3 linked regions of the Homo sapiens genome follow. The gene in region 3 interacts genetically with the main gene of each other region. Each region holds a gene or a part of one and is shown on either strand. Other genes may lie near its edges.

Evidence for each region.
Region 1: changes in PTTG1 (region 3) and POLR3K impair growth when combined (synthetic growth defect), as found in Homo sapiens cells (one large-scale study listed by BioGRID).
Region 2: changes in PTTG1 (region 3) and HUS1 together harm fitness more than expected from each alone (negative genetic interaction), as found in Homo sapiens cells (one large-scale study listed by BioGRID).

Annotation. Positions count from the first base shown.
Region 1 is NC_000016.10:45,832-48,345, forward strand, and holds the end of POLR3K (DNA-directed RNA polymerase III subunit RPC10), read right to left. Parts: intron 1,727-2,514; coding exon 1,599-1,726; 3' UTR 576-1,598; downstream 1-575. UniProt on the Homo sapiens protein: Core component of RNA polymerase III (Pol III) which synthesizes small non-coding RNAs using the four ribonucleoside triphosphates as substrates. Can mediate Pol I proofreading of the nascent RNA transcript.
Region 2 is NC_000007.14:47,966,049-47,969,625, forward strand, and holds part of HUS1 (checkpoint protein HUS1), read right to left. Parts: intron 3,271-3,577; coding exon 3,171-3,270; intron 1,878-3,170; coding exon 1,758-1,877; intron 1-1,757. UniProt on the Homo sapiens protein: Component of the 9-1-1 cell-cycle checkpoint response complex that plays a major role in DNA repair. The 9-1-1 complex is recruited to DNA lesion upon damage by the RAD17-replication factor C (RFC) clamp loader complex.
Region 3 is NC_000005.10:160,427,017-160,429,372, reverse strand, and holds the end of PTTG1 (securin), read right to left. Parts: intron 1,659-2,356; coding exon 1,500-1,658; intron 772-1,499; coding exon 692-771; 3' UTR 634-691; downstream 1-633. UniProt on the Homo sapiens protein: Regulatory protein, which plays a central role in chromosome stability, in the p53/TP53 pathway, and DNA repair. Probably acts by blocking the action of key proteins.

The sequences.
Region 1 (2,514 bases), on a different chromosome or scaffold from region 3:
GTGTTGTTAGGAGACGTTATTCCCAGATTTGGACTGCCTCTGAGATCAGACAATGGACCAACATTTGTGGCTGCAAGAGTTCAGGACTTAACTAGACTATTAAAAATAAAGTGGAAATTGCGTACATCCTACAGGCCACAGAGCTCAAGTACAGTGCACGAACCAGACACTCAAACAGCTGCTGAAAAAATTTTGTCAAGAAACTCATCTAAAATAAGATCGGGTCTCGCCCATGGTCCTCCTCCAAGTCAGGTACACCCCCACCAAACAAACTGGGTATTCGTCCCGTGAAATATTGTTCAGAAGGCTGCCCCCAATCATTAATCAAATTAGAGGGGATTTAAAAGAGTTAGGAGAGCTAACCCTTAGAAGACAGATGCACTCCTAAAGGAGTGACAATGCAAGAGATGCATGGCTAAGTATTAAAAAAAAAAAAAATGCCTATAAGTCTAACAGACCCAGTACACCCTTTCAAACCTAGGGTCTGTGTTTAGGTTAAAAAATAAAATCCAACCACTCTAGGACCCATATAGGATAGGCCCCATATTGTGATCAGGAACTGATCAACATGTTCAAACAATAAGAAAATAGTCATATTAAATGTAAAGATTGGTGGGACACAGTGGCTCACGCCTGTAATCCCAGCACTTTAGGAGGCCGAGGCAGACAGATTATCTGAGGTCAGGAGTTGGAGACCAGCCCGACCAACATGGAGAAACCCCATCTCTACTAAAAATGCAAAATTACCCAGGTGTGGTGGTGCATGCCTGTAGTCCCAGCTGCTTGGGAGGCTGAGACAGGAGAATCCCTTGAACCCGGAAGGCAGAGGTTGCAGTGAGCTGAATTCGTACCACTGCACTCCAGCCTGGGCGACAGAACAAGACTCTGTCTTAAATAAATAAATAAATAAATAAAATAAATAAATAAATAAATAGTATCTTATACATTTAAAGCAACCCGAGGAAGCAAATCAGGGGAGGTTCAAAAAAATGAATAAGGGAGTAAGAATAGGAATAAAGAAAGAAATTGAAATCCCGGTGATTAACATTTTCGTAGCCTGTTCAAATGTAAGTATGTAGTCTATTCTGGGATCACTGTGATTTGGGGTTTGCTTTCTACCTCTTAAGCTATTTAAAACACTGAGAAGGCAATATTCCAACTTTCATTTAAATGAAATATTCAGAATTTTGATTAAAATAAATAATAAATTACACAAGTTTACAAGTAACAGTTAAATATTTAGGGACATGTACTAAGTTTTACAAACAGTACAAATATTTAAGAGTGTTGATTGGGAGTAAGGGAATGTCAACTGCCAATAAAGTGGAAGATGAAAGAATAGGACTTTACACAGAGCATATTTAGTTATGGGTCTCTGTCTCCTCCCCACACAGAAAAACTCCCAGACATTCATGACTTCATCCACCCTGCCTGGCAGATAGGCCATATTTCCTGACCCCCTGGCTCTTCACCTCAAAAGGTTTATCTTTCCACCACACTAGCAAAGACCCTCAGGACACACAACTCATACTGCCAGCTAAGCATCTACCCCGAGGGACAAGGCAAGCACACACTAGGGCAGCTGGGCCATCCTGGCCCTAATCCCTCCAGCGGTGTCCACACTGAGCATTGCAGCACTTGTAGAAGGTGGTCATCGGCTCATCTGCAGAGCGGGTCTGAAGCTGCATGAAGTAAGCACGAGGATGTTCGCATTTGGGACACGACTCTGGCAATGAGAAAAAAGAAGTGACCACATTTAAAAAAAGATGCTACTCATGGCTGTCAAAAGTAGGTATTACTTAATATGTGGGAGGCCAAGGCGGGCGGATCACCTGAGGTCAGGAGTTCGAGACCATCCTGGCCAACATGGTGAAACCCCATCTCTACTAAAAATACAAAATTAGCCAGGCGTGGTGGCGGGCGCCTTTAATCCCAGCTACTTGGGAGGCTGAGGCAGGAGAATCGCTTGAACCCAGGAGGCAGAGATTGCAGTGAGCCAAGATCGTGCCACTGCACTCAAAAAAAAAAAAAAAAAAAAAAAGTAGGTATTACTATAATATCTTTTTTTTTTTTTTTTGAGATGGAATCTCGCAGTCACCCAGGCTGGAGTGCAGTGGGGCGATCTCAGCTCACTGCAACCTCTGCCTCCCGGGTTCATGTGATTCTCCTTGCCTCAGCCTCCCAAGTAGCTGGGATTACAGTTGCCCGCCACCACACCCGGCTAATTTTTTTGTATTTTTAGTAGAGACAGGTTTTCACTATGTTGGCCAGGCTGGTCTCGAACTCCTGACCTCATGATCCGCCCACCTCAACCTCCCAAAGTGCTGGGATTACAGGCATGAGCCACCGTGCCCAGACTACTTAATATCTTTAAAGATGGTAAAGAACCTCCCTGCTCATTTGATCCCCCTTGACAAGGGTAGATCTACAAACAGTGATGTCATTCCCACCACGCTGTAACACTAAGGGAATCTGGGAGACCTGTGACTCACACACTCTCCCCCTCCCCTCCCT
Region 2 (3,577 bases), on a different chromosome or scaffold from region 3:
TGACAAGAAACCATGTGTGAGCAGGCTGCAGAGAGGCCAATCCCAGGAGATGGGAGGTTGGGGAAAGGACCAGAAAGGACAAGCAGGAGACAAACATTCTTTAGGAGAGGTGGTGCAAGGGCACAGGAGAGGCAGAGACTGAGGGTGGCAGGACCTAGCTAGAGGAGGGGACAATTGAGCCGACACCTGAAGGAGACTAACAGAGACAGAAAAGGGGCTTTGGGAAGTTAAGAAGGTATGAGAAGTTCAACCCACGGTGTTTTAAAAAAAATTTTTGCTACATCACAATTTGCTGGTCTTCCTTTCTCTGCTACACGTGGAGACACCAAAGTGAATGTTGGGAAGACACTTGGCTTAGTCAACCACCTTTGATAAGAACTCTTCCATGTTCCTCAACAGCCTTGGATTCAGAAAGTCCCCAAAATACCAAGTTCAAAGACTGATGTTGTGCAGCGCAGGGGCCCCCCACACCCTGTGTTTCCACACTCTGCAGACAGGAGGGGTATTTCACTCTCTCACCATTCACACTGTGCTTGTCAGGACCAAGGGTCTGGGCATTGTACAGGAGCTTGGGAGAAGTGCAGCCATGAGGCCCAGCCCAAACTATGAATAAGGAGTCCCTTTACATGACCTTCAGGCGATCTCCATGCACATCGAGGTTCTCAGAAGCACCTTTAAGGACCCTGCACTGCCACACAGCTCCCACTATGCTCAGCCCTAGAAATATGACATCGTCCATGTCAAAGTTCCTTAAAATGCAGCACAGGTACCTCACCCCAAAACTCCCCATGATCTGGCCTAGTCTAGCTTCTCCATCTCTACCCTCAGAGCTGCTTCTCTGGCGATATCTCCTTCTGTGCCCATCACTCCAACTGTGTGACACCTTCCCCAATTCCCAAACACCCATTGCCCCTCCCATGGTCTCTTCTGATTCTCTTCATGTCTCTCATTCAAAAGGGCTGGTCCTTGACATTGCCACCTAGAATCTTCTGTTCCTTCTCTACAGCACACTGCAGATCTGAAGGGGATGAGGTGCAGTGTTGGCTCAACCTCCCTCTCAGCTCAGCCTGGGAGCTATGCTACAAAACGTGGAACTTCAAATCCAGGATGCAGTCGCTTTTAGGTTGCTGTGATTTCAGTAGTAAGGTGACAAAAATGCCTTGAAAAGCTCTTGGCAGGTAATGCCTTTCTCATGTGTGGTCAGTAGATGAAGAGTGCTGGAGCAGGTGTGTGACCTCACAAGATGGGGCCCAGCCAGAATCAAGAGGCAACTGTTAACAACCAGCAGCCAAGGGACAGATATGGGGCAGCGAATGCAGGCCAGCATAGCCACAGAAAGGAAACAAGACATCACAAGGGAAAACTTAAATCCAAGCCAAACCGTGTCTGGCACTCTGAGCAGGTCAAATTAGATGACCATGGAGAAGGTGGGATGATCTGCACCCATTCTCCCGATGGCATCTCCAGGTGTGCTGGCCAACTGAGGCAGCACACAACCCACCTACCAACCAGTGTGGCTGCAGGTTTCAGGCCCTAACAGAGTGCCCAGGGGTTGTTTCTCTGCTGCCACCTTAGGTACTTCTGAATCTAGGAAAATTTAAAAAACCCCACTGTTCTAGGAAGTTAAAGTCCACATAATTGAGCTTTTTTTTTTTTTTTTGGATTTATGAGACTATATGCAATCTGTTAGACTAGAGTTGACTGCAGTATTTAGAATATGAAAGAATATGAAAAACAAAACAGAGAAGCACACTCACTGCATAAGGCCTTTGTGGGATTTACTTGTTGTCCAGCAAGAAACTGTAGGAGCTTCCTAATATCTATGTGCACTTCAGCCATGTGTTCCACGTTTCTGTCCTCATGGGTGCTTTCAGAGGCTAAAATGATAGGAATGCATTTAAATACAACATCTTCCCACGTAACAGGAAACCTGGAGATACTCAATGCATTTTACTTAAATAAATGATTCACTTTAGCACTGATTTTAGCATCCTGAAGAAATATTGCAACTTGTAAATGTTGTCATTCATTAAGCATTAGGTCCTAACTATTTAAAATACTATGATAATTTCCAAGGCATCTTTATTTACAGGGGACTTGAAATATAACTCAATCTCCCTCTTCAGGTCAAAGAAAATTTTATTTATTTGTACTTACTATGTATTTTAAGAGTGAAAATATATACATTAACTAATACAAGGCCTGTCATTCTGGAGTGGAATTAAAAAAAAAAAGAAAACATCCTTTCTACCTCTGAGAAAGTACCAAAGATAAGTCCCACCTTATGTTTATTAAAAGAAACAAAATGAGTGACATCAGAATGAATCGCTTTACACAATATTATCAAAGGCATAACCGTATGGATTTCACTCTGCTGGAGCAGGATGCTCTTAACTAGAAAGTAAAAATTCCTTCCAACTCTATGCTAAAATCTGTGTTTATATTCAAGCAGACTCGTAGTAACTTAAATGTGACTAGGGCCGATTTTATTGGTTCTGGCACACTTATGTATCATAAAATGATTTTCTCATCATCCCCAGGTGTTTCTCCCCTGGTCCTTTACCTGCTTTCCTGCTCAGGCAGCCCCTGCTACTGTGCAGCTGCCACTTTCCAGCCATGATTCTAACCCCCTCTTGGCTTATAACTCACCAAACTGTCCAACCGTCCCCTCTCTCCCCACTTGCTGAACTGACTCTATCGTCCCTTATTACCTTGTATGAGATAAGAAATGTGATCAAGTGAAACAGTTTTGCATCTGCTACACTAATTTCATACATATGGAAGTAACTGAAGGAGGAGAATATAAGAACAAATGTATCTACCTTTCTGAATCCATGCCAGGTGAGAAATAGAAATCTTTAGGAGTAGGACAGGAATTGAATAGCTGGAAGGGATCTTGGAGGTTATGTAACTTGATCCGAATTCTACAGAGGATGGAGACCCTGCACAGATCTGTCAGCTACTTGGTGGCACAGCTTCTCCCCCTGGTGGCTAACTGCCCCACTACACCACAGGGATACATAGTCCAGTCTCAATTCCTTTGTTCTTCACCCAAGCATGAAACAAAGTCAACTGAATTTCAACCTTTTTACATGAAGAGACCTCAACAGGTAGGTTATCTGAAACAATTAACTTATCCAAAGCAAAATATAACCCACTAGAAAACTTACCTAATGGAGGATTTCCAAGATCTTTAAAATGAGTTGTAACACATACTAATTCAGTTTCTATTTTCAAATTCAATTCTCCATCTAGGTTTGCTTCAATAACCTGCAAATTGAGTATTTTACATAGTCTTAGAAAAGGAAGCCAAAAGGAAAAAAACTCCATGGGCAACAGCTTTCACACAACCAGATGACAAAGTACCCTACAAAACCTCAAAACACCTCAGAGCACACTGAGACCCCCGTGCTATCAGGGAAAGTGAGAAGATAAGGCCCAAGAGCCAAGAACTCAGAAATCTCCCAAAAATCTCAAAGGGGAAGTCCCCCTGCCTGCCTCCCGGAATGAAGAACTCAGTGAAGATGTGAAAACAGGTGGAACTCCGAGAGGACTTGCCAGGAGACTACAGCAGCAC
Region 3 (2,356 bases):
TCCAACCTCAGAACTGAGATCAAAATACCAGCTCTAATAATTTTCTAGCTCTTCACATCTTTGACAAATCAATGAACTTCTGCGCTTCATTGTCTTACCTGGGAAAGTGTCAAACATTAAACATAATAATGCTTCTCAAATACTCATGTCCAACACAAGGTAAACAACTAAATACAGTTTCCTATAGGTGGAGTGTAGACCTTACTATCAGTAAATTATCTCCAGTGATCTTTAAGGAATCTAATTGAAGATCCCAAGGAGGCTGAATTCTCAGATTTAGAGCCTTTCAATACTGAGTATTAAAGTCATTAGAAACTAAGTAGAACCGGCAATAAAGAATGCCCAGCAATAGATACTTAATGAGTTGGAAGTAGCTCTTCTAATTAAGAGATCTAATAACTGTCACTAGTTAATGGCCACAAAAAGTCAATAAAGTACACATTGAGGGGTATACTTTTCAGGAAAAAACAGTGGCAGCTTCTAAAATAAGCTGTTAAACCAAAAAGATTTAAGTTTTTAGACATCAGACAAATCTCTATTGTCACATTATAGACTCTTTGTTAAACACCTCAGCTAGCTTTCATGTTATTTTAAGTAACCTCCATGGAAAAGCAACCACAATACTAGGAAGAATCTGTTAAAGAATGCTTTATTAATACAAATACACACAAACTCTGAAGCACTAAGAAATTTAAATATCTATGTCACAGCAAACAGGTGGCAATTCAACATCCAGGGTCGACAGAATGCTTGAAGGAGACTGCAACAGATCTAGAAAACAGGAATCTCTTATTAAAATTTCTGCAAATCCTTGAGTCATTGTCCATATCAACATAGACATTAGCTGTCAATCAAAAATTCATGTTTTTCCCTTTGTCAAATCAATCACCTGCATCCCCTCCTGACACATTTTTTGGAATGTGTCTGTGGCCCCAGAATTGACTTTCATTAGGAAGTAAGTTTTAGAAGTATCTGAATCTCTATTGTTCTTAGAGACCAAAGTAAGAGTTAACAGTCTCACTAATGTAACTTATTAGGACAAATTATCCCACATCAGAACAAACAGAAAACATAATGTTGGCTTTGACTACCAGTTCAAACGAAGACCTCAGACCTTCTGCAGTAAGAAGTTATTGTCAGTCTATGCTACAGCACAGGTGTTTTGATCTTATATTAGCTTTGGATATAACATGGAATCATCATTCCAAGCAAGTTTATTATATATGCTTCAACTTATAGCCTAAGAAGATGTAAGTGAGAATTAATCTTTTGGCTGTAGTAAGACTATCCAGTTTCCAGAATAACAATTTTACTGGGGCATTTGGGACTGAAAAGCAATATTAATCGAGAATAGTTTATTTTTCTGAAAACTAATCCTTGTCATTTGAAGGACAGAAATTACTCACAGGCTCACCTCCCGCACAACTCTTCCCATGGTAATGGAAGTGTTATGAAACAAATTGTTTGCAGCCCTTCCAGAAGGGCACTTGCTCACTTACTGGATTCCCATGGTGGAGAGGGCATCTTCACAGGTGAAGGGGGGCCCAGCTGAAACAGCTTTTCAAGCTCTCTCTCCTCGTCAAGGATCATGAGAGGCACTCCACTCAAGGGGAGGTGCGCAATCTGGTGCTCTTCAGGCAGGTCAAAACTCTCAAAGTCTGTTACAGAGAGAAAGCGTTTTTGTCAGGGCAGCAGTTCTTAGTGTGGGCTGTAGATCCCTTGTGGTCTGAGACCCTTTGAGGGGGTCCATGAGGTCAAAACTATTTTCAAGACAATATTCACACCTTTTTCCACTGGGTTGACATTTGTAATGATGGTACCAAGGCAGCGGTGGAGAAAGCTGCTGGTGCCTCAACACAAATCAAGGCAGTGACAGTAAACCATATTAGCAGTCTCTCTGTTCTGCATCCTTCTTCGCTTGTAGTTTAAAAATGCCAGTTTCACTTACTGTCACTTCACCATATGCAGTAGAAAGTATTAATTTTATTAGCTCTCCATCCTTGAGATGTCTTTTTAATGTTCTGTGTGATAAAATGAGAAGTATGCCATAAAGCACTTCCACTGTACACCAAAATACGATTAAAAGGATTTGTGCAACTATATGAGTTGCAAGCTAAAACTAGAGAACATTTTCCTGGAATACTGTTTTTACTTGAATTAACAACTGCAAGAAATCCCATGGTCACTCAGACCTGGGTGCTTGTCACACTTTTTCTTAAAGGAATGAAAGAAGTCTATCACCTCAAGGAAAACTGACAGCCTTTGTTGCCAATGGCAGAATATAAAACGTTAAAATTTTGTCAAAAATTAAAAAATGAATATTTTTTTTTTGAGACAGAGTCTCACTCTTTCACCT